5 separate regions of the Homo sapiens genome follow, and regions 2, 3, 4 and 5 are each linked to region 1. The links come from fine-mapping of genetic effects on gene expression. A gene starts in region 1. Each other region holds a variant in brackets. All regions are shown on one strand. Distances are between the middles of the regions.

Region 1 (5,118 bases):
GCAATCTCGGCTCACTGCAAGCTCCGCCTCCCAGGTTCACGCCATTCTCCTGCCTCAGCCTCCTGAGTAGCTGGGACTACAGGTACCCGCCACCATGCCCGGCTAATTTTTTTGTATTTTTAGTAGCGACAGGGTTTTACCGTTTTAGCCAGGATGGTCTCGGTCTCCTGACCTCGTGATTCACCCGCCGTGGCCTCCCAAAGTGCTGGGATTCCAGACATGAGCCACTGCACCCAGACCAGTGTTAATTTTTTAAAAAATGTTTGGTAGGATTCATCAGTAAATCTATCTGGTCTTGAGCTTTTCTTTTTCTTTTTCTTTTTTTTTTTTCCTGAGATGGAATCTTGCTCTGTTGCCCAGGCTGGAGTCAGTGGCACGATCTCAGCTCACTGCAACCTCCGCCTCCGGGATTCAAGCGATTCTCCTGCCTCAGCCTCCCAAGTAGCTGGGACTACAGGCGTGCACCACCATGCCTGGCTAATTTTTGTATTTTTGATAGCGATGGGGGTTTTACCATGTTGGCCAGGCTAGTCTCGAACTCCTGACCTCAGGTGGTCCCCCCGACCTCGGCCTCCCAAAGTTCTGAGATTACAGGCATGAGCCACTGTGCCCAGCCTTTTCTTTTCTTTTGAGACAAGGCCTAGCTCTGTCTCAAAAGGCTGGAGTGCAGTGGTGCAATCTCAGTTGACTGCAACCTCCACATTCCGGGCTCAAGTGATCCTCCCACTTCAGCTTCCCGAATAGCTGGAACTACAGGCGTGCCACCATGCCTGCTAATTTTTTTTTTTTTTTTTTTTTGGCTGGGGGGATTTGGTAGAGATGGGGTTTCTCCATGTTGCCCAGTCTGGTCGCGACCTTCTGGGCTCAAGTGATTCGCTTGCCTCTGCCTCCCAAAGTGTAGGGATTACAGATGTAAGCCACCATGCCCAGTTTCTGGGCTTTTCTTTATGGGATGTTTTTGATTCCTAATTCAATCTCTTGTTACAGGTCTATTCAGATTTTCCATTTCTTCTTGAATCAGCTATTATAGCTTGTGCCTTTCTAGGAATCTGTCCATTTCATCTAGGTTCTGTAATTTTTTGACATACAATTGTTTACAGTATGTCCTTATATGCTTTTTTTGGGGGGTAAAGTCAGCAGTAATATCCCTGTTTCATTACTGATTTTAGTTCTTTTAATCTTCTTGATCTTAATTAATTTATTTATTTTTAGTAAGACAGGATCTTGCTCTGTCATCCAGGCTGGAGTGCAGTGGCATGATCATGGCTCATTGCAGCCTGCACCTCCCAGGCTCAAACAATCCTCCTACCTCAGCCTCCCTAGTAGCTGGGACTACAGGCATGCATCAACGCACCGAGCTAATTTTTAAAATTTTTTGTAGAGATGAGGTCTTGCTATGTTGCCCAGGCTGATCTGGAACACCCAGGCTCAAGTAATCCTCCTGCCTCAGCCTTGAAAAGTCCTGGGATTACAGGCATGTGCCACCATGCCTGGCCTAATTTATTTTTAATTCCCAAGGTTATGAATTAATACATTCTTGTAAAAATTCAAACATTCAGCCTGAGCAACATGGCAAAACCCTTTCTCTACAGAAGGAAAAAAAATTAGTCCGGCATGGTGGTGTGTGCCTTTAGTCCCAGCTACTTGGGAGGCTATGGTAGGAGGATTGCTTGAGCTGGGGAGGTGGAGGTTGCAGTGAACCAAGATTGCATCACTGCACTCCAGCCTGGGTGACAGAGTGAGACCCTAGCTCAAAAAAAAAAAAAAAATTCAAACACTGCAGATAAAATGAAAGCCTTGATTGCCCCCTGCAGCCTCAAACACTTCCACAGAGGTAGCCCTATTATCGGTTTGGTGTAGCATGGTTACTATGTAGCATAATTACATAGTTAAGCCAGTGCATTCATTTCTATTACTGCATAACAAATTACTGTAAATTTAGCAGCCCAAAACACCAATTTATTTTCTCACATATTCCATGAGTCCAGGTACTGGTTGGCTGAGTCCTCAGCTCAGGGTCTTATCAGGCTGAAATCAAGGTGTTGGCTGGGTTAGCGATCTCATCTGAGGCTCCGTGTGTGTCCTTTCCCAAGTTCAGTGGTTGTTGCCAGAATTCAGTTACTTGCATTTGTAGGATTAAGGTGCCCACTTTCTTGTTGGCTGTCACCCAGGAGCCTTTCTCAGCTCCTAGAGTCCACCTGCCATTTCCTGCCATATGGCAGTTTGCTCCTTCAAGGTGAACAGGACAGCTGTGCTGTGGCTTCAAATCTCTTAGATTCTGTCTCTGACCTCTAGCCCTGATTTAAAGGGCTAGAGTGATAAGATGAAGCCCACCAGGATAAATCACCTCTTTTTGACTGCCTTAAAGTTAATTGATTAGGGACTTTAATTACATCCTTGTCATATAAGCTAACCTAATTACAGGAGTGATGCTCTATCATATTCACAGTCGTGTTTTCTTTTAAGGGGAGAAATGTATACAGGATGTGTACACCGTAGGGTACAAATCTTGGGATACATCTTAGAATTGGGCCTCTCACAGCCAGCCATAAGAACTGTCCAAGTAAGCAATAGAGGTATTAATATGGCCTTTTATAATCAGTATAGATTGTTTGAAAATGTGAGATGTCCATGGTTGGCCTCTAATAACATTCGATTCACGGCAAACATATATTCAAGTAGGAGACATGGTGATATAGGCAGAAAAATCAAATGATGCTAAACAAAAGAAAACTGTCTTTGATTTTGAAAGAATTCAACTTGCTGTATATCTTTTGCCTAAGCCTTCAGTCAGCCTTTGCTCTACATCTACCAATGTGATCACTGCTTTTCCTTCTGACTTCTTTAGGTGGGTCAAGAGTTTGCTTTTCTCCCCATTCATGAGTGTAAAGTTTAATGCCTAACTGAACTTGCTTCCTTCTTTGACTCTTGTGTAGACTCGGGCACATGGGGCAACTTTTTTTGTGTTTTGCTCTACCAGGTCGTCCCTATTCCGTGGGACTAGTGTCTAGCCCCATTTCTTCAGCAGTGGAGCCTAGGATGTAGAGCTGCATACTACCATTAGGAGGCGCACCCTCAGGCCTCGGCTCCGCGTTCTTTATGTCTCTGGACCGCTCTCTCTCGCAGCTCATCTCTATGGTTTCCGTTGGGTGTGTGGTTTTTTTGTTTTTTTTTTTTTGGGGTCCGGAATAGGCGGAGCTTCCGGTTCCGGTGGGGGCCGTCCCTGGCGGCGGAGATGGCGGCGACAGCGGCGGAGGCTGTGGCCTCTGGCTCTGGAGAGCCCCGGGAGGAGGCTGGAGCCCTCGGCCCCGCCTGGGATGAATCCCAGTTGCGCAGTTATAGCTTCCCGACTAGGCCCATTCCGCGTCTGAGTCAGAGCGACCCCCGGGCAGAGGAGCTTATTGAGAATGAGGTGGGGGGCGGGGCCGCGTCTAAAGGGAGAGGAGGAAGGTACCCGGTTGAGAGGTCAGAGGTGAATGGTGAAAGAGATGGGAGACTGGCAGGGCTCTAGACTAGGGCCTATGGGAAGATGGAGAGAAAGGCGAGGAGATACGGAACTTAGGGGTTCGTGCTGATTAACAGGAGAAATTATTCTGAAGTTGAGAAGTAGTTGGGATCATGGAGGCCAACCCACCGGCTCCTTGGCATTACTTCATTTGGTGTTTTTCACCTGTTGTTTTCATTTAGGAGCCTGTGGTGCTGACCGACACAAATCTTGTGTATCCTGCCCTGAAATGGGACCTTGAATACCTGCAAGAGAATATTGGCAATGGAGACTTCTCTGTGTACAGTGCCAGCACCCACAAGTTCTTGTACTATGATGAGAAGAAGATGGCCAATTTCCAGAACTTTAAGCCGAGGTCCAACAGGGAAGAAATGAAATTTCATGAGTTCGTTGAGAAACTGCAGGATATACAGCAGCGAGGAGGGGAAGAGAGGTAAATTCCGAAAGCTTAATTTTCTGTTGGATTTAGGACACTCATTTTTCTTTCCTATACTTGTTTGAAGGTGTGGCAGAATTGGGTCAATTAGAGATTGGCCTCTCCCATCTCTGGATTCCAGTTGAAGGAGTAGTCTGGTCTTCCAGCCTTTAAGGGGTTTGAGTTCTTAGTGGTTCTTGGTGCTACAGCCAGCTAGTTCTGTAGCTTGAGGGATGAGGGAATGATTAAACTTGAGCTATGAATCTCTGGGTTCCCATCTTCTTCCTCATAAAGAGTTAGTTGCCTAGAAGGGTCAGGCAGGTGAATGGAAGGAGTAATATCGTCTGTGTGAAATCAGTGATGAGGCTGAAGGCATAAGCCTTGTTCAAAGTGAGAAGCCAAGGCCGGCGGGGGTGGCTCATGCCTGTAATCCCAGCACTTTGGGAGGCCGAGGTGGGAGGATTGCTTGAGTCCAGGAGTTCAAGACCAGCCTGGGAAACGTGGTGAGAGCTAGTCTCTGCAAAATTAAAAACTAAAACAAAAAACCATGGTGAGAGGTCATTACTTGACTCTGCTTGCTTCAGTTTTGGAGTGCAGTTCTAGGGTTGGGAGATATTCCGATTTTCAAGAGAAGTTCAAAATCAGGATTTTTATTTAAAATCTTTTGACTTTAAATGGAGCAACTAAATCAGATTTAAAGAAAAAAAGTTGCAGGGGGCCAAACAAAAATGTTTGTCACTGGATTTAGCTCTGAAAATGCCTGTTTGTAGCCATTGTCCTTAAGTATTGTGATGACTGAGGATAGTTCAACCTGAAAAGTTGTATAGTTTGTTGTGATTCTGCAGTAAAGAAGGTTAGGATTCTCTAGCTTAGGGAAGATCAGATTAAATTTGTTTTTCCTATCACAACAGCAACACAAGACACACAAGACAGTGATTCTTCCTCTCTGCTTTTATTCCTGCTTATGAGGACAGCCTCTTATGTAGGTCCGAGACAGTATTCAGTCCCACACTATAACACTGCCTCTGGGGAATTGCTTTCGCTCAGTACTTCACGGTGAATTACCCTCTCGCATTTGGTGTCCAACCCTGGGTTTCTCTCTAGTCTCTTGCTTCACTCACTCCTGTTCCTGACTCCTTATCAGCAGTCTGTGGCTAAGTGAATGGATTTGAAATATCTTTTTTTCTTCTTCTTAACA
Region 2 (5,130 bases), 83 kb after region 1:
TTGAAATGGCCAGCACTTTATCCTGATCGCCTTAGATATTGTTTCGAGTCAATCATCTGTCATGGTGCGGCAGGAGAGCCTCTGCCTTCACACCACATTCCCTCCCGCTGCAGGCCCCGCTGGGGCACCCTGGGGGGAGGAGAGCTCAGCCCCCACCCTCATAGGGGTGCCCCTCTTCCAGGGGCCCCTGTTTTGTATGGCTTCTCTCCCCTGGTGAGTTCTGTCTTTACTGGGATGCTGAATTAGAGCTCATAGAGGGTGGGGGTGCTGCAAGAAAGGGGTGCTGAAGGGCCTGAATTAGAATTAGGAAATATTGGGGTGGGGCCAAGCTAGTCTGAGGTACCTCCTAAGTGCTCTCAGCACATCAACCACCCCTAGCCTGTCCATCAGTGGCCTTCAGTTTCTCTCTCATCTCTTCACTGTCCCCTGAATATATTGTATCTCTCCCACCTGCTTACCCTACCCCAAACTCACCAATCCCATTGCCAGCCCCTCCCTGACCTGGCACTGGCTATGCGTTCAGCTTCCATTCATTTCTCTGACTTGGCTCACTCTGGTCCTGCCGCTGGAATGCTGCTCCTGTTGGTTTTTTCCTGTTTAGGACTTCTGCCATCTGTTAAGTCCCCAGACTGGTTCCACCTCCTCCAGAAAGCCTTCCCTAGCTACCTGAACCCACGGTGCATGAGCTCTCTGAGAGGTGGGCCAGTAACAGCACGGGCGCAGCCTGCAGGGGCCACACTAACTGGACACACTCTCTCCCACCAGATCTCTAGTCCATTTATCTCCCTCCTGCCTTTAAATGGTTTCCAAATGTCCTCTCTCTTCTTCTTTCACTGTTTGAGTGATGTGTGTATATGTGTGTACATGCGTGTGTGCATTTCCTAATCCCCTCAAGCTCCTTTGAATATGGCAAAATGTAAAGTGGAAATAAATATTACTGTTTTTTAATGGAGTCTCACTGTGTTGCCCAGGCTGTAGCGCAGTGGTGTGATCTCAGCTCACTGCAACCTCCACTATCCAGATTCAAGTGATTCTCCTGCCTCAGCCTCCTGAGTAGCTGGGATTACAGGCACCTGCCACCATGCCAGGCTAATTTTTGTATTTTTAGTAGAGACAGGGTTTCGCCATGTTGACCAGTCTTGTCTTGAACTCTTGATCTCAGGTGATCCACCCGCCTCAGCTTCCCAAAGTGCTGGAATTACAGGCATGAGCCACTGCGCCTGGCATAAATATTACTCTTAATGATAATTTCAACTCTCTAGCTGAACTATGAGTTTCTCAAAGGCTGGCCATTTCCTCCCTGTCTCTTGCCCTTCCATAGCCTAATTGTCTCTTGCCCTTCCATAGCCTAACTGTGAGCACAGAGGATCAGGCACAGAGCAGGGACCTGCATCATCACCTCCAGAAGGTCCCTGATCACTAAGGCTCTCCGCTTCCTCTCATCCCCCACCTCCCACCTTCTACCATACATCTTTTCCATGTGGTAGATACAGGCATTGTGGGAGACTGTCAGTATTCGAAGCGAGTGCTGTTTCTGGCAGGAGGAAGGGGACATGTTCTATGAACAGTGTCTCCATAGGAGATAGCCTAGACGGTTGGTGTCTCCTTGGAGGAGATCAAAGAGGTCAAGGATCCCCATAGGGTCAATGTCATGGGTCCTTTTTAGATAGTTGGAGTATTCAATGTCAGCTGGCTGGTCAGTGTACCCCATGTAGCAGAGTGTCCTCACTGATGGTCAGTGTCACCAGGAGCCTCATGAAGGGTCACTGCCCTCTAGAGATTGTCAGTGTAGTAGGCATGCCTTATGGATAGTCCAAGGGTCAGTGTGGCCAGACCTCCCTAAGGAAAGATATTCACAGACTCAAAGGGTTCCCAGAAGACCCTTTGGAACTTCCTTACCTCCCCATCCCCACCTGGACTCCTCTTCAAATGAAATCCCGACTTGTTTGTTCCTGGTTAGTCTCATTCCTGACTTGCTCCTTGGCTCTCCCTAGTCCCTGAGCTCTGGGAAGGGAGTGGAGATGGCACCAGCAAGGTCTAACAAATCATGGGGTTCATGGTCAGGACCTGGGGGTGGTTCTCTAGGGTGCGCCACCAGGACCCTAGTCCTTCCTCCCTCCCAGCAGCCCTCATCCAGAAGACATGGCTATATTGGTGGTACCACATCGATGGATTGAGAGCTGCAGGGAGGTGGTGGAAAGGGTCTAGAATTGGGGTCATTATTTACAAGGGAAGGCAGGACAGTGGCTGGAGAGACTTAGGAGCAAACTTCGTAGTGGGAAATTGCAATCTACTGTTAACATCTAGGGAAAAATCAATATATCAGATGATGTGTGTATGCGCCCATGTGATGGAGGGTCAGTAGGTGAGGGGCTCAGGCCCCTGTAGGGAAGAAGGGGTGGAGTGTGAGGGCGGCTCATTCTCTGGCTGCTGTTTCCCCATCTACACAAGCTGGGGGAGATCAGGCTCTGGGTCCAGGGAGCACATGTGCTGGGTAGGGGTCCCAGTGGGTGGGAGGACAGAGATGCCAAAGCTGGTGAAGTCCTGGCCTCTTCCCATCTCAGACACCCTCAAGGCACTGTCCTCTCTCTATATCCTGAACTTGGCTGCAGCAGGGGTAGATGAAAAGGAGGAGAAACTGTTGGATAAAAAGAAATTAAAAAAAAAAAAGTAAGTGAAATATTCAAACTGGAAAGTGATATTATAGAAACTGCAGCCCACGGCTCAGTGCATTCAAATTTATTCAAACTCGGTGCCTGACAGTGATGGATGCGGCAGCTTTTCCCACAATATGGAGAAGGCGCGGGGGCATTTAGGACTGCGGGTCCCCTCCGGGAGGGTGGGGGCCCACACCACCTCCCGTGCCTAGCTCCTCCTAAATGGGAAGCAAGGTTCTGGGACCTGTCTCCTCTGCTCCCCTGCTTCCCAGCCACATCCTCTATCCCAGGGTCCTGGGATCCTGTGGGCCTCGGCACCACCAGCCCAAGTGCTTGGAGTATGACCAAGGACACTAGGGAAAAGGATGGCCAAGCATGTCCAGGGGACGACTGGACACGGGTGTAGACTGCATCAGAGAAGGGTGTGGTTGCATGGTCTGCAGCCAAATAAATAGGATGAACTCGACA[A/C]GCCCCCAGATGTGCTGAGATCTCAGGGTCTTGGTGATCCCAAGACAGAGAGCAGTTCATCTCATTGATCTCCACTTTCCTGTCCAGGCCAGCTTGGCAGCCACTCCATCTAAGAGAGGGACAGAAGGGCCTCTGGGGAAACGGCAAGTCTGGGGCCTGGTCTGAGCAGTGGGCAGGCAATGGAGTGTCTATGAATGTTATGCCCTGGGGTGTCTCCTGCTCTCAGGAACTCCACCCATAGTTCCCTGCACAAGGTTGCCCTGGCCTCCTGTCCAGCCTCCTGACCAACAGACCCTACATCTGATTCTCAGGCCCCATCCTGTGGGAACCCTTGGGAATACCGTCACCCCCTAAAGCTCACTCCTCCCTTGGCTGCCTCGCCCTTCGCTCCCGCCCACCCCTCTCTCAGCTCTAACACTCCTTCTCTGTCTCTTTTGCTTCCCACACACACCCCCAGGTATGGATAGAGTGCAAAGCTTCAGCTTCAGCTTCAGCTCTCTGCTGTCCCCTCCCTGCAGACTCTCAGGAGATCTCATACTCCAGCCCCTTCAGCAGGTGATGGAAACATCTACCTCTACTTCCAAGCTTTTCTTGAGCTCTAAGCCCACAATTCAGGCAGTACAAGGCTAACTGTGGGAAAGCGAGCTCATAAGTCTCTCCTAAAACCAGCAACAACTTGTGACTCCCCTATTTTGTTAATAGCCCTATCACTCACTATTGACCCTCACAGAACTCTTGGAGCCTCTGTCTCCTTCCTGGTCCTCATCCCTACCTTCCATCAATTAACAAATTTCAGAGATACTTCCTGATGCCTTTTGCACCCACCTTTGCCTCACCGTCACCACCACCCCCATGAAGGTCCTTATTATGGCTCTTCTAGGTCACTTCATTTCAACCAACAAACTGCTTTTGAGTGCGTACCGCATCAGGTACCAGGTCAGGCATCCTCCTCTGCCTTTCAGTTTTACTGTCTCTAATTGTTCTACACACTGCTGCCAGAATAACTCTCCTAAAGCACAGCTCTGATCATGTCACTCCCTTGCTCAAACACCCTCAAAGGCTCCCCGTTGCCTGCTATAGAAAGTGCAGACTCCTTACTCTGATATTCAGGGCCCTTTGTTATCTGGCTCCTGCCCACCCCTCTCTCCAAACCTTCCCATTACTCTCCTCCATGCTTACATTTGCCAGCCAAATTGGACTCAGAGTGGTTCCCCTGAACATTCCCCACACAGCGACTTCCCACTTACGAGCATTCACTCATGTCCTTCCTCTGCCTGTGACAATCTCCTTCTGGAATGGCATCACCTTCCAACACCCCAACTCCTCTCTGCCCATCAATATTTTAATCCTCTGCAAGTCCTGATTCAAGCAAAGCCATCTTCTGAACATTACCTATAAATGTGTGCAAGGTGTCTGCTGGCTACTATAATTATTATTGCTATGATTATTCTCCCCCCTCAGCAGTGGTTTCTCTTTTCTGGGAACCTTATAGGCCCTCTCCACAGCTTTCCTGGCTGCTGACATGGCTTTCCTAATACTGATATTGCTTGTATACCTGACCTACATCTGTCCTGGACTATAAACTTCTTGAGAGCCAGGACCAATAATATTCATTTGTGTCCCCCTCAGCCCCTAGCCCAGGAACCTCAGTAAACACCTGTTGAACAAGTGAATAAAGGAGTGAGTGAATGAACGAATACAGCTAAACTCACTAGGACATGGCTATGTGACACAGACTTGGCTCTTCTGAGCTTCCTGTTCTGGACGGTGACCACCTAAGAGTTCCCTGTCATTACTCCCGGCTCTCCTGACATGTGTCCAGGTGAGCTGGGACGTAAGTGTGCAGGCTGTATGACAGGTGTGTCATCCCTCCAGAGTGAGAGGGGAGTGTGGCAGAGTTCAGCCTTCCCAACTCATCAATCAAAGGGCACTTACTGACAGCTCCTGAGAGCCAGCTCTGGGCTCTGCTGCTAGGGAGGGATGAGCGGGAGATGAGAGCTGCCCT
Region 3 (5,130 bases), 35 kb before region 1:
AGGTGGGGGTGGTTAGAGTAGAAAGAGAGAGGCAGGCAGATACTCAAACATGGGTCCCAAGGTGTGGGTATCCACCTCACAAGGTCCAAGTAATCCCCTCCCTTCTTCTCCTGCATGATGGGCAGTTACCGAGGAGATTTTGGTTTTCTTCTTGGCCAAGTAGCGCTCCTGTGTTTGCTTCAGCAGATCTGTACCCCCAGCCTGGGCCAGGATAATGGCATCAGCAAAGCGCTCCTCCTTCAGACACAGCTCCACGGCCGGACCCAGTTCCCCAAGCAGGAGAGCCTGGCTTAGGAGTCCATCAATATCTGCAGGCAGAAGCATCCCCTGTGCATTAGTTGCTCTCAAACCCCAACTTCCTGCCCCCTGCAGGGCCCACAGCACACCCTCTATATCTCTATATCACTCAGTGTGCTTGGCTCCAAACTAAATCCTCAAGTTTCACTCCTTGGCAATAAAATGTATTTTGGTGCCCAGGTCTAAAGACAGGGCCCAAGACAAGGGAGGGAACTGATGTGGCAGTAGCACAGTGTGAGGTGTGCTTGATCACAGTGGGCAGGGCCACAGTCCTTTCAGCAAGAAGGATAGAAGAAAATCTGTTGGTAGAAGGCCTTCCATAGGAAGGACGTATCCATGAAAATCTACAACCAGAGAGAGCTCTAACTGGTAAGCGACTCACTCAGCATTTGAGACGGTGGGAGGAAGGCACGAGGCAGGGGACAAGAAGGGAATGTCTCAAGTCCAAAACCTCCGTGCCCACCTAGTCCTAAGCAGAGACTCTCCCTCTCCCTCAGGGTCAGGGTACCTTTTGTGATGGGGATCTCCCAAGGAGTCATGTTCTGAGGGACCAGCTCATCAAAGAAGGCTGAGGAAGCAGAGGCTTCCTTTGTGGTGTGTTTGGAGGCCTGTATGAGGAAGGACAGAGGTGACTACTTAGGGATGAACCCAAGACAGACAGAGAGCTGGCTTAGTAGCCCTGAGAGCTCTACTATTTGGCCGTTAATGGGTAAAACTAAAAAAATAGCCAGGTAAGGTTTGGGGAGGGCCATAGTTCATGGTTAAGACACAGCTCTCCACTCCCAGCCCAAAAGCTTAGGGACTCTGTGTCTCACTCTGGTTCTAAGAGAGTGAGGAGTCTGAAGACTTCTACAGACGCTAAACACTTACAGACAGCAAAGAAAAGGGCCAGGAAGGGAAAGATGCCCAAAAGGCAGGTTTCCTGTGTTACCATAGGTCAGGCTGACTGGACTCCTACCACACCTGGCTGCAGAAGGCCTGTTGTCTGTCACTGTTGAGGTCATTTCCCTTGGGCTGAGGACTCTCACCTAGCCCCACGTCACTCTTCAACCATGTGGCCACCTGCAGGGAGAGACCTCTGAAAACCGCTCTTTCAAGCGTAAGATCAAATAAGCATTATCCTCTTTTCCTATCTCCATACCCCACCAACTGTACTCTCTAAGATCCCTGATCTATTTTTTTCTGAGAAAAAAACAAACTCCAGGATGTAAAATGCTCACATATGCAATAATAAGGCCAGGAAGAGGTATTCTGAGGTGGTTTACTCTGGCAACATTCTCTTCTTCTCTTCAACAAGTACATGTTTCTGATGTGAAAAGCAGCTTACCTTCTTCTGAAGCTCATCTTTACTGTATCCTAAAAGCTTTAGGAATTTCATTCTGGAGTCTTGCTCTAAGGTCACCTAAGAAACCACAGAACACAGAAAAGATTCCATTAAATGAACATAAATGACGCTCTTCCTACAACAAGCTGGGTATCTGTGCCAGTATACCCAATATAGTTCTTTGTACTACTAGAAGTGCCCTCAGCAGTCCAATGCCATCTCTTTTTCCTCCCTGGATCTGACTTACTGATGGGCTATCAGCAGTGTTAACATAGCCCCCTGCCCTTTGCACATGAGAATTTGACCTTTCATTGACTTCCTAGCTCTGTTACCCTGGTAGTCTGGTGAGAGTAAAATGTCAGCTGTTCCTAGGCAATATGCTTGTGATTGGTAACTTGCATCTGGACTGGAACTATGTAACCTAGAAA[T/G]AATTAATGTGAACAACATGCTATGCATTTCCCTGTTTGCAGTGGCTCTTGTAACTGGACAGATTCCTTGCAGGGACTCCGGAAGCTATGCTTTTAGAATTGGTACAAGAGATATTGGCTCTTGTGGGCAAGAAGCTTCTAAGTCAGGGCAACTTACATACCTGCCTGATGTATAGTCTCATCTCCTTGCACCTGAGCTGTCTCTGGCGGGCTGAAGAAGAGAACTCTGAATTACTGCATGACTGCTGAAAGGGCTCCCACAGAAGACACCTGCCTGATGCTACCCTGCTGTGGTCCCTATCCCATATCCTTCCGAGGAGACTGCTGCCAAGTGTAGCCTACAGTAGTCTTGTGAGTCTAAATGTTTCTTTTCTTTTTTTTTTTTAGACAGACTCTTGCTGTCTCAACCAGGCTGGAGTACAGTGGCGCCATGTCGGCTCACTGCAACCTCCACCCTCAGGGTTCAAGTGATTCTCCTGTCTCAGCCTCCTAAGTAGCTGGAATTACAGGCGCCCTCAACCACGCCCGGCTAATTTTTTGTATTTTTAGTAGAGACAGGGTTTCACCATGTTGGCCAGGCTGGTCTCGAACTCCTGACCCCAGGTGATCCACCCACCTCAGCCTCCCAAATTGCTGGGATTACAGGCGTGAGCCACCGCACCCAGCCTTGTGAGTCTAAATGTTTCTTTGAGAAGACCTCTGGTAGAAGTTGCACAGGTACAGTAAACAAAGTCAGCTTCCCACTCAATGTCCCAAATACCAAGGAGCAAACCTTTCTGAAGCCCCCGTAATCTTGGTTAGCTGTCCCAGGCCCTTAATTTATTCCACACTGAAACATGATTTCTAACCATACCTTTCTCATAGTCTCTCTGGGCACCCTTCTCCTTCCATGCCCTTCCCTTGGAAATGTTCACCACACCCAACCAGGAACCATCATGATGGACAGCTCTTGGGTAGCTTTTAAACCAGAATGCCTGGCCAGGCGCGGTGGCTCACGCCTATAATGCCAGCACTTTGGGAGGCTGAGGTGGGTGGATCACCTGAGTTCAGGAGTTCGAGACTAGCCTGGCCAACATGGTGAAACCCTGTCTCTACTACAAAAAAAATACAAAAAATACAAAAAAAAAAAAACCCTGTCTCTAAAAAAAAATACAGGCGTGGTGGCAGGTGCCTGTAATCCCAGCTATTTAGGAGGCTGAGGCAGGAGAATTGCTTGAACCCGGGAGGCAGAAGTTGCAGTAAGCCAAGATCATGCCATTGTACTCCAGCCTGAGCGACAAGAGTGAAACTCTGTCTCAAAAAAACAAAAACAAAAAAACCCAGAATGCCCTGTCCTATAGGTCCCTCTGTCCTATAGGTACCACTGTCTCCTTTGTTTAGCGGAGTAAAGGCTGAACTCCTGACCACTCCCTCTCTTTACCATCTCACCATTCCTGGAACTTGTATCCTGCTTATGACAAAAGCATCATTTCTTATTCTTTTCTTCCCACATCATTCTCTGGCTTCACTGTATAGTCAAGATCTTTCTCAAATCCTCTTTCTCTAACTTCCTGATGTCCACCTTCATAAAGCTCTACTATGCCTAAAGCTCAAATTTCAAGTCCCTCTCAGATGCCCTGGTACAGGCCCAATCCTTTTTGCTTTCTTCTAAACAATTCCAAAAACTTGCACAATCATCCCACTGACTGACCAGTCAGCTACTTGCCTTTCTTCCTTCAGATCTCTCACTTGCTCATTTCCTTTGATAGGTATAGTACTCCTCCTGGTGTCACAGGAAACTTGAAATTAAATGAGAACTGGAACTGAACCCATGCCTCCAGTGTACAGTGGCACCTGAACCCTAGGACCCACTCCAAGGACTTGCCTTGGGTTACTTGAAACCAACTCAAAGCCTTCTTATGACAATATGTCCTTCTAACTAATGTTTTTCCTTTCTCCTCTTTTTCTCTTTCCTCCCTTTTTTCTTCCTTCCCATTACCTTATCTGCCCTTTGGCATGATACCGTGAAGGTCTTTGCCTTGGCCCTGGTAAAATACCTAGGACATCAACCATAGTAGCAACAAAAGAAAACATCTCGTGTATTCCCCATCTTTCCTAGCCTCTTCCCAAATGGCCTTTGAGCCTCTGGTAAAGGGTGAACGTTTTGTGTCTAGATGGTGGGTATAGTGTGGGGGAAAAACTAATGGGAGTTAAGGCCTCTGTGATCTGGGTCCCAGTGTGCTTGTGCTTCTCCTGCAGTTGACAGAGGTTGGAGTTCCAGGCTTTGGGGAGACACTTCTGAGCAGCTAGCCTTCAGGCTTCCCACCTTCAGGAACTGCCACAGCATCTTTTCACTTTGCAGTAAAGCTTGCTGGCTCTTGTTCTGACAGTAATTCAGTAGATTTCCTGATCCCAAGGCCTCCTGCAGCTCAGCTGATCGCATCAGGAATTCAGATTCTGTGGTGACTTGACTGATGAAGACTAGGCGGGGGCAAGGCTGTGGCACCAGATGGGCAGGGGTGCTGGGGAGGCCAAAAGTAACCAGCTTCCCTCCAAACTGGTGAGGAAAAGCAAGAAGGGTAAAGGTTATACCTTCAAGTCAAAAAGTAACACTAAGTCAGATTCACAGAGAAGGCTATCTAATGGCTGACCCTAGGCTAGGAAATAAATAAAATAAGAGAGTTCCTGGGGGGTGGAATAGGATCAGGAATTTAGTATTGAATTCGTCTCCCTACCAAAACCACTTCTGCACTCTTAGGACCACCCACTTCAAACTTCACCACACAAGACTCACCTTCTGCTAACCTGTCCTGGTACCACCATTCTCCCAGTCACCTGGGCTAAATACCTCAGCATTAGCAAAGTCTTCATACCCCCTATAGCCAAGCAACGACAAAGTCCTACCTATTCTTGTTCACTGTCTTTCATGCAGGTCCCCTCCATCCCATTCCCAGTGCCAGTACCCCCAGATTACTAAAATAGTTTGCTAGCCTTCTGTTCTTTTCCCTCCTCTAATTAAGCCTTAGACTATCCCTCTATTGCTTGTACCAACCTGCTGCTATTCAGGAGCCTGTGTGGTTTCACAAGGCCACAGGAAAGAGC
Region 4 (5,000 bases), 59 kb before region 1:
TTCAAAAAGAAACCCTTTATTTATTAGCATTCACTCCCCGTTCCTCCTCCCCTCAGTCCCTGGAAACTGTGAATCTAGTCAGTTTCCATGAGATTGCCTATGCTGGACATTTGATATAGATAGAATCATATCATTTATGGCCTTTTGTGTCTGGCTTCTTTCACTCAGGATGATATTTTCAAGGGTCATCCATGTTGTAGCTTGTATCCAGTACTTCATTCCTTTATATGGTCAAAAAATATTCTATTATGGGTTGGACATGGTGGCTCATGCCTGTAATCTTGCACTTTGGGAGGCTGAGGCAGGCGGATTGCTTGAGGTCAGGAGTTTGAGACCAGCCTGGCCAACGTGGCCAAACCCCATCTCTACTAAAAATACAAACATTAGCTGGACATGGTAGTGCATGCCTGTAATCGCAGCTTCTTGGGAGGCTGAGGCACAAGAATTGCTTGAACCCAGGAGGTGGAGGTTGTAATGAGCCAAGATGGCGCCACTGCACTCTAGCCTGTGCAACAGAGCAAGATTCTGTCTTAAAAAACAAAAAAAAAGGTGACTCTTCATGATTTTTGTCTGAGCAACTAGGAGGAACAGTCCTTTACTTAGATGGAGAAGACTACAGAAGGGGTAGGCTTGGGTGATGGCAGCGAGGATCAGGAGTTCAGTTTTGGACACGTTAAGTTTGAGATGCGTATTAAACACTGAAGGAGAGATGCCAAGAATACAGTTGGATATGCAAGTCTAGAGTTCAAGCAAATGTCTGAGAAGAGCTGGGAGGGTTCAGGAAGTCATGAACCCTTTGAATGGTCCTGAATCTGGGTAATATTGTCAGCAACTGTACAACCTCATGGGAAATGGGAAGCTTGTACCTCCATCTGGGAGTATACTGTTTTACCATGTTCTGTCTATATAGCAGCCTCCATTTGTTAAACAAAATTTATATCTTAAATTTACATCTTCAGTGTTTGTTAGCATCTTTCCTTCAATCACATAACTGCCACATAGAGGTGGCACCCATACAAACACTTAAATTCCTTCCTTTTTGGTTCTCTTTGCATCTTCTCACAATACTCACTATGTTTTCTGCAATCTATATTTTACCCCCAAAAGGAAATCATGTCATTGTTTCATTGACCAAGAACAAGATCCTCCTCCTTTGGTACTCACTACAGGACAGTCTTCTTTTTTTTTTGAGACAGAGTCTCGCTCTGTCGCCCAGGCTGGAGTGCAGTGGCACGATCTTGGCTCACTGTAAACTCCACCTCCAGGGTTCAAGTGATTCTCCTGCCTCAGCCTCCTGAGTAGCTGGGATTACAGGGGTGCATCACCACGCCCAGCTAATTTTTGTATTTTTAGTAGAGACGGGGTTTCACCATTTTGGTCAGGCTGGTCTCAAACTCCTGACCTCAAGATCTGCCTGCCTTGGCCTCCCAAAGTGCTGGGATTACAGGCGTGAGCCACTGCACCCAGCTGAGTCTTTTCTTAATATAGGATATTTTGGATATGAACAAGCTAGCCATAAGGTTCAAATATGTCTGCAAATAACTCGGAGGTTAACAACACAAGTTGGCTGGGCGTGGTGGCTCACGCCTGTAATCCCAGCACTTTGGGATGTCAAGGTGGGCGGATCACCTGAGATTGGGAGTTCGAGACCAGCCTGGCCAACATGGTGAAACCCCATCTCTACAAAAATTACAAAATTAGCTGGGTGTGGTGGCACACGCCTGTAATCCCAGCTACTCAGGAGGCTGAGACAGGAGAATTGCTTGAACTCGGGAGGCGGAGGCTGCAGTGAGCCGAGATCATGCCACTGCACTCCAATCTGGGCAAGACAGAGCAAGACTCCGTCTCAAAAAACAAACAAACAGAAAAACACAAGTCCCGGGAGGTGGAGTCTGCAGTGAGCCGACATCACACCACTGTACTCAAGCCTGAGCAAGATACAGTGAGACTCTGTCTCCAAAAACAAAACAAAACAAACAACAAAAAAAACAAAAACACAAGTCACTTTATAGGAATGTTGTCCAAATAAGGCCTATAGTGTTGTTCCATGACAGGTGCTCAATTAAGTCTCATTCATTGATCAGTTGGGCTTGACCTGGATATCA[T/C]ACAAATCTTTGCATATTGTAGGATCTTCCAGGAAAGAATTCTCTAGAATCTCTGTCTATTACTCCCTGTAGTTCCGGCTTAGACTCCTTTCACAGGAAGACTCTTCACCCCAGCTATGGCAAAGCATTTTCTTTGTCACTCAATTTGCTTTGTTGTTTTGTTTTCTTTCCTGATAATTTCTGTCTTATGGAAAATGGGAACTAGCTCTGTCAGGCTTGGTAATGTCCAAAATCTTTGAATGTTATTCCTAACATAAAAAGTGCCTTTCTGAGTGGGAACAAGCTCAGGCCCCTTTCCCCAAAGCAAAGGGGCCTGGCTGACTCCTCTGACATGTCTTTAAGGATCAGAAATTCATGTCCAAACCTATAATGGCTTTGGAAATTGTGAATTCATTTAAGTCATTCTGAATTGTATTTTTGTGTTTTGCTGGTGCTACTACACCTGATCAAGCAGTGCTTCTTTTCAGTTGAATTAAGGTTGCCTACCAAGCTTTAAAAAGTAGGCCTTGGTGGCTGGGCGCGGTGGCTCACGCCTGTAATCCCAGCACTTTGGGAGGCCGAGGAGGGCAGATCACGAGGTCAGGAGATCGAGACCATCCTGGCAAACACAGTGAAACCCCATCTCTACTAAAAATACAAAAAAAAAAAAATCAAAAAAAAATTAGCTGGGCATGGTGGCAGGTGCCTGTAGTCCCAGCTACTCGGGAGGCTGAGGCAGGAGAATGGTGTGAACCTGGGAGGCAGAGGTTGCAGTAAGCCGAGATGGCACCACTCTAGCTTGGGTGACAGAGTGAGACTCCGTCTAAAAAAAAAAATAGGCCTTAGTTTTGATAGACTTCATAGTATTTTTGATTTTCTAAAATTCTATTACAACTCGTTTAGAATCTTTTTCATCTCATATGGCAGCCTCTTAGTTTGTTAATACTGGTTTTCAAAAACTACTCACATTTTTGGTGTTGTATGTGTTTTTTATGAAGAAAGTCAGCCAAGCTCTTTTGGCCTGACAAGAAACTTTCTTGGTCTATTTCATTTCCAATCCCCTTTCTGGTGATGTTCAGCATCTTATTGGCCTTCAGAATTGCAGGGGTACACCAGCATGGAACAATACATAATGATTCCCGTATTACTTTCTCACATTATAATGGAAAAACAAAGATAATAGATAATAGATTCTGATTTTCAAATGCCTATACTGAAGTCATTCTCCAAGTCTTTAGCCCTGCAGATCATGTGTATATGTACATATATATTTAACTTTTTATTTTTAGATAATTATGGAGTTGCAAGACATGTACAGGGAAGAAACGTACAGGGAAGTCCCATGTACACTTGCCCCAACCTCCCCCAGTGTGAACATCTTACAACGTTAGTACGATATCCATGAAGCTTATTCAGACTTCACCATTTTTACATGCACTTGTGTGTACATGTACTCATGTATGTGGCTTTATGCAATTTTGTCATGTGTAGCCTTGTATAACCACAGTAAAGACATTTGGCCATTCCCCCAAGACTTTCTCATGTTACTCTTTACAGCCACATCCATCCCCCATCCCAAATCCTTGGCAACCACTGATCTGTCCTCCAGCTCTATAATTATATAATTTTTATTATTTCACTATTGTTATGTAAATAGAATCATGCAGTATGTATCCTTCTGAGACTGACTTTAATCACTCCGTAACTTCCTTGAGGTTCATCCAAGTTGTTGCATGTATCAACGTATCATTCCTTTTTATTGCTGAGTAATATTCCATGGTATGAATGTACCACAGTTTTTTATTTTTTATTCATTTATTTATTTATTTTATTTTATTTTTGAGTTGGAGTCTCGGTCTGTTACCCAGGCTGGAGTGCAGTGGCGCGATCTTGGCTCACTGCAAGCTCCATTCCCAGGTTCACGCCATTCTCCTGCCTTAGCCTCCTGAGTAGCTGGAACTACAAGTGCCCACCACCACGCCTGGCTAATTTTTTGTATTTTTAGTAGAGACAGGGTTTCACCATGTTAGCCAGGATGGTCTCGATCTCCTGACCTCATGATCTGCCTGCCTTGGCCTCCCAAAGTGCTAGGATTACAGGCGTGAGCCACCGCACCCGGCCACAGTTTTTTAAACTACCCTTTGAAGGACATTGGGTAGTTTCCAATTTTTGACTATTATTAATAAAGTGGCTATGAGCATCCAGGTACAAATTTCTGAGTGAAAGTAAGTCTTTATTTCTCTGGGATAAATGCCCAAGAGTGCAATTGCTAAGTCATATGACAAGTTCATTTTTAGTTTTTTTTTGTTTTTTTTTTGGGACAGAATATCACTCTGTTGCTCAGGCTGGAGTGCAGTGGTGCAATCTCAGCTCATTGCAGCCTCTGCCTCCCAGGTTCAAGCGATTCTTGTGCCTCAGCCACCTGAGTAGCTGGCATTACAGGCGCATACCACCATGCCTAGCTATTTTTTTTTTTTTTTTTTAGTAGAGACGGGGTTTTGCCATGATGATGCCTAGGCTGGTCTTGAACTCCTGGATTCAGGTGATCCACCTGCCTCAGCCTCCCAAAGTGCTGGGATTATGGGCGTGAGCCACTGTGCCCAGCCCATTTTTAGTTTTAAAAGGGGCAGCCAAACCATTTTTCCAAATCGCATTACTTATTTTTAGAGTTTTATTATGACTCAATCCCTAGAGAGATATTCCACTGTTTGTTTACCTCTTCCTAATTAGAGAAGTATCCTTCTAACGTCCCACGGAGTCAGATGAATGTGGATTCAAATCCTGCTTCACTCACTTATTAGCTGGGTGAGCCTGAACACACGTTTAACTTTTCTGGAGTCTCAGATTTCCTGTCTGCAAAATAGAGATAATAATGCCTGAGACAGTAAGGATTTAACAAGATCAACATGTAAAATA
Region 5 (5,130 bases), 39 kb after region 1:
GCACACTTGGATAAAAACACACAGAGACCCGCAGCAGACACACATACAAATACACAGCAGCTCAAACGTATACTCAGACACGAACTCAAGCACTCTACCCTTATGCCACTCAATATTCACACTGAAACACCATACAAAGACAGAGACCCATTCCCAGATACTCCAAAGGGAAAGAGAACCAGGAGCACTGTCAGAGGAGAACCTCTGGAGACATGAAGGAGGCAGGTGGTCAGAGATAGGAGGAAGGAGAGAGACATGTTCACGGTGAGAGACAGTTTGGAAGCAACTTCTATGCTGTAAAGGAATGTGAATTGAGTAGTCCGGGGGAATGAGTCAGGAGGTTGATCCCTGGGCCAGGTGTGCCCCATTTTGTACAAGGGAACACTGTATGGTCAAGAAATGATTACTCAAGGTCATGCAGGGAGTCGAGAAGACGTGGGGCTGGGTGCAGTGGCTCACACCTGTAATCCCAGCACTTTGGGAGGCCAAGGAGGGCGGATCACCTGAGACCAGGAGTGTGAGACCAGCCTTGCCAACATGGTGAAACCCCGTCTCTACTAAAAATACAAAAATTAGCTGGGCGTGGTGGCGGGGGCCTGTAATTCCAACTACTCAGGAGGCTGAGGCAGGAGAATTGCTTGAACCCAGGAGGTGGAGGTTGCAGTGAGCCAAGATCGTGCCACTGCCCTCCAGCCTGGGTGACAAGAGCGAAACTCTGTCTCAGAAAAAAAAAAAAAAAAAAGGTCAGGTGCAGTGGCTCACGCCTGTAGTCCCAGCACTTTGGGAGGCCGAGGTGGGTGGATCACAAGGTCAAGAGTTTGAGACCAGCCTGGCCGACATGGTGAAACCCCGTCTCTACTAAAAATACAACAATTAGCTGGGCATGGTGGCATGTGCTTGTAGTTCCAGCTACTCGGGAGGCTGAGGCAGGAGGATCACTTGAACCTGGGAGGCAGAGGTTGCAGTGAGCAGAGATCGTGCCACTGCACTCCAGCCTGGGTGACAGAGTGAGACTCCCTCCCCCTCCCCCAAAAAAAAGAGTAGATGTGGGAACAGAAATAAGGAATCCTGTGCCCTCCTATGGGGGCCTCAGGGCACTAAACACTGTGTGTATGTGTGTGTTTTTGTGTGTGTAAGATGTGCTTTTGAACGACGCTGGCTTAAGTGCCATCCACATACTAGGATCAACAATTGTTTGCAGAGGCTGGCAGTACCTGACGCGGCAGTGTATGTCTGCAAATGTATATTTGAGGACTTGTGTGTGCACACGCATGGGGGGGATCATGCTTGTCCTATTCACTTCCGTATCCCCATCACTTAACAAAGGGCTCGGCACATAGTACTCAATCAATATTTATCCAAGCATGAATGAATGAATAGAAACCCTCAGGGATCTCAGGTATAGGAGGGCCTGATCACTGGTAGAGACCGTGGCAGCTCAGCCTCTGGGTGGGGCCTGGGAAGGTGAGACATAGTAACTCTGGCCAACTTGCTGCCATCGCTGTTGCTATGAGGGGCCCTGTGGTCTGTGCTCTGTCTAAGGTAATGAGTTTCATGAGTTATTTCAGACCATTCTGTGTGGCGGGCATGGGGAGGGGGAAGGAAACAAAAGACCTGTCCACTTGTTAAACATGGGACAGGTAAGGGAGAGAAGGGCAGTAGTAGACGGAAACTCAAGATGGATAGATAGCGACAGATAGGCATACTGACGAAAGACACCAACTGGTGGATATATTTATTTCTAGATAGACCAAAAGACAAATAGAGACATAGATAAATAGATGTACAGATAGACACACAGACTGACATGAATAGGCAGGCAGGCAGACAGTCCTGAGGAGTGACTGAGAGATAGACCAACAGACAGGCAGACAAATCAATAGACAGACAGATGGACAGCTGGTTGCACAGAGAAGATGGATGCGTAGCTCAGGACACAGAATGGAGCCAGCTCTGCTGATGGCCTACCCCACAGCCAGGCCCCACATTCCATCGTTCTTTGTTAAGGAACCCACTTTCGTGGGTTTGAAGTCCAATGCTTTGGAGAAAGTTAAACACTTCACTTGTCCAACAGGTGACTCTTAATTGTTCTAGGAAAATCATGGTAACTCCATTCATCTTGGATGGATGATTTGGGAATGGACATATGATACAACTTTTTTTTTTTTATACAAA[G/C]TTTTGCTCTCGTTGCTCAGGCTGTAGTGCAATGGTGTGATCTTGGCTTACCGCAACCTCTGCCTCCCGGGTTCAAGTGATTCTCCTGCCTCAGCCTCCTGAGTAGCTGGGATTACAGGCATGCACCACCACACCCAGCTAATTTTGTATTTTTAGTAGAAACACGGTTTCTCCATGTTGGTCAGGCTGGTCTTGAACTCCCGACCTCAGGTGATCCACCTGCCTCGGCCTCCCAAAGTGCTGGGATTACAGATGTGAGCCAGCATGCCTGGCCTATGATACAATTCTGACCATCGATATGTGGGAGGTAGTCTATTACGAAGCTTTTGGGAAATTTTACTGCAGTCTTAAAAAAGGATAGATGGAAGGGATGTGCCCCTTTCCTCCTTCTGGATTCTCGCTTTGCTATGTGAAGATGTAATGTGTTGGGTTGCTCCAGCCTTTTTGACACCCTGAGGTTCAGCCTGAGTTCAAAAGCTGACATGCCAAGGATGACAGAGAAGAGATGTGAAAGGAATCTAGGTGCTGGTGATGCCATGGGGCCACATTAATCAGAGAGATAAACAGGTAAACTGAGGAGCTGACAGTTGGAAAGATCATCAGACTCTGAGCCCCTGATGTTTATGTTTAGCACCTGTTACATACTTGTTTGTATTGACTATGTGATTTTCTAGTTTGGGAAAAACATTCTGTCTCTGTCTCTGTCCCTTCCTCCCTCTCCCCTCTCTCTGCCCCCTTCTCTCCCTCTTCCCCTCTATTTTCCTTTTCCCTCTCCCCTACCCTCCCTCTCTGCCTCCTCCTCCCCCATCTACCTGCTTCTGTCTCTAAGAGTCCCCATACGCATGGCTCAGCTCTGCCTCCCATAGTAAGGCATTTACTTGTGTGTCACAGGCTGCCTCTGAGCAGGGCCTGGGTTTGGGATGATGAGGGGAGAGGCTGGGAACCATGGGAAGGCAGAGTACCTCCTTCCACCCCCTACCCCATGCCCGGCGAGCTCAAGCAGTCTTTCCCCCAAATCCATCAACTTAGTCCTGGCCTAGGGTTCTTTTCCTGACCACCCCCTCTTCCTTCCTGCCAGGATTCCAAGGACCTGGGGTTATACCTCTGAAGTAAGTCATTTTTGAGACCTGTTCACTTTTCAGGCTTGAGTCCAGCCTTTGGACTTGCTTTTTTTTTGCGATGGAGCCTCATTCTGTTGCCAGGCTGGAGTGCAGTGGCGCGATCTTGGCTTACTGCAACCTCTGTCTCCTGGGTTCAAGTGATTCTCCTGCTTCAGCCTCCCGAGTAGCTGGGACTACAGGCACCTGCCACTGCACCCAGCTAATTTTTGTATTTTTAGTAGAGACAGGATTTCACCATATTGGCCAGGATGGTCTGGAACTCCTGACCTCAGGTGATCCACCCGCTTTGGCCTCCCAAAGTGCTGGGATTATAAGCATGAGCCACTGCGCCGGCCGGGACTTGCATTTTTGTTATGGGGCATGGAAATGATGGCAAACAGATGGCCGCAAGGGCAGGGAGGACCACCAACCCCCCACAAAAAAACTTGGCTCTCCCCGTTTTTGTGTTCATCTCAGTTGTTGGCCACTTTATGAATCTCTGAGTCTCTCAATTCAACAAATAAATATCAAGCTTTTACTCTGTACAAGGCACTGGCTGGTGCCATGGGAGACAAATGAGAAATAAGACACATTCCTCTTCTGGAGGAATCTTCTCTTTTTCTTCTTCCCTTTGTATGTATCTCTCTTTGGGTGTTTCTGTCTTTCTCTTAGTCAAATGATCAAGAAATATTCATAGGATAGGCACTGTACGCCATGTATTTGGGCTTGCTTTCCTCCTCTAACTCCGCCCTCTCTCCATGCCATCAGCATTCTCCCTGCACTGTCCATCTCCAGGTCCCACTTACACTGCAGCAAGATGATGAGAGTTACGTGCTTTCCGAGAACACGAAACCCCGAGGGACCGATGACTCTTTGATGGTCCCCTTCTCCTTTCACCCAGGATAATCAATCTGTCAGGGGACCAGGGGAATGTAGGAGATGACTTCACAAGCATGCAGGCAAAGGGTGACCCCAGGATATATTCCTCCTGGCTGTTATGGCTTCCCTCCTCATCTTTGCCCCCCCATCTCCTGTTGCCTAGCTATTCTTTCTGAAGCATTATTCCAAGCAAGTGCCCCACTGGCAAAGATGGTTCAGTGTGGCATTCCAAGCTCTGCACCATATGGGCCCAACTCACCCCTTCCAATTCCACTACTCCCACCCCCCACAAGACCTTCAAGACTGGCCACCTTCCCTGACAGCCAGCAGTTTCCTGCTTCACCACCATTCACATTATATTAATACAGCTTTTAAAGCCACGTTTAGAAGTCACCTGTTCCAAGAAGTCTTCCTTGATGCCCCTACAAGAGGCTCCAACTCAGACCCACAGGCACCAAACACGCCCTTTTATGCATGCATACTGACCTGCCGGCAACCAAGGTTGACATCAGTACCAACAAGTTCATGGCCATGTCTTGTGCTTTCCACCCTGCCCTGGTCAGAGTTCGAGGCTCCTCCGGGCTCGTGGACAGCTCACCCCCAAGACTCTTTCATATTCTGAGTTCCACACTCCCCTGGGCCCCAGTGTGTCCAAGCAAGCCCTGGAGTGTCCTTTGGGTCATGGCCCCAACCTGTTCCCTCAACCTTCTTCATTACCTGCCTAGACAGTGGCATCTTCCTTCCTCCCCTGCCCTGCCCTTCATCCTCCTCCTCCTCAACATCAACAAGTTTCCTTATAACCTACTATGTGCAGGGTATAGTAAATTACAGTAGTGGATCTTCACTGAGGACTTATCACATGCCAGCCTGACCTATACAATCTCACTTCGTTCTTACAACAACCCTAAGAGGCAGGCACTATTATTATTCCCATTTACAGAGGAGGTGATCCCATTTCACAGATGAGGCCCTCCCA

Which allele goes with the higher level. Positions count from the first base shown, and alleles are read on the strand shown. Sizes are in standard deviations (SD) of each study's normalised expression. Not every link is listed here.
With allele G in place of T in region 3, the expression in transverse colon of the gene that starts at base 3,220 in region 1 is higher (small effect, 0.19 SD a copy in GTEx).
For the expression in fibroblasts of the gene that starts at base 3,220 in region 1, allele G in region 5 goes with a higher level than allele C (small effect, 0.25 SD a copy in GTEx).

The links. PIP is the estimated chance that this variant, and not a neighbour inherited with it, causes the effect.
Region 2: its variant is the best candidate, but not a certain one, in a credible set for the expression of HIF1AN in whole blood (TOPMed, PIP 0.59).
Region 3: its variant is the best candidate, but not a certain one, in a credible set for the expression of HIF1AN in transverse colon (GTEx, PIP 0.64).
Region 4: its variant is the best candidate, but not a certain one, in a credible set for the expression of HIF1AN in whole blood (INTERVAL, PIP 0.69).
Region 5: its variant is the best candidate, but not a certain one, in a credible set for the expression of HIF1AN in fibroblasts (GTEx, PIP 0.86).

What each region holds. Positions count from the first base shown.
Region 1 is chr10:100,532,724-100,537,841 of GRCh38, forward strand. HIF1AN (hypoxia inducible factor 1 subunit alpha inhibitor) reads left to right here and starts at 3,220. Exons shown (of 8, transcript NM_017902.3): 1 at 3,220-3,412; 2 at 3,688-3,938. The coding sequence starts at 3,236. RefSeq lists enhancers at 2,980-3,069, 3,140-3,199.
Region 2 is chr10:100,615,509-100,620,638 of GRCh38, forward strand. No RefSeq gene overlaps it. Among named protein-coding and RNA genes, the nearest start is that of HIF1AN, 82 kb to the left of the region's middle. The variant A/C (reference allele first, on the strand shown) is at 3,126.
Region 3 is chr10:100,497,900-100,503,029 of GRCh38, forward strand. It overlaps SEC31B (SEC31 homolog B, COPII component), which reads right to left. Exons shown (of 26, transcript NM_015490.4): 11 at 4,355-4,585; 12 at 1,625-1,699; 13 at 1,261-1,359; 14 at 806-905; 15 at 130-308. Among named protein-coding and RNA genes, the nearest start is that of SEC31B, 19 kb to the right of the region's middle. The variant T/G (reference allele first, on the strand shown) is at 2,050.
Region 4 is chr10:100,473,394-100,478,393 of GRCh38, forward strand. All of the region lies in intron 1 of WNT8B (Wnt family member 8B), which reads left to right. Among named protein-coding and RNA genes, the nearest start is that of WNT8B, 13 kb to the left of the region's middle. The variant T/C (reference allele first, on the strand shown) is at 2,106.
Region 5 is chr10:100,571,703-100,576,832 of GRCh38, forward strand. No RefSeq gene overlaps it. Among named protein-coding and RNA genes, the nearest start is that of HIF1AN, 38 kb to the left of the region's middle. The variant G/C (reference allele first, on the strand shown) is at 2,176.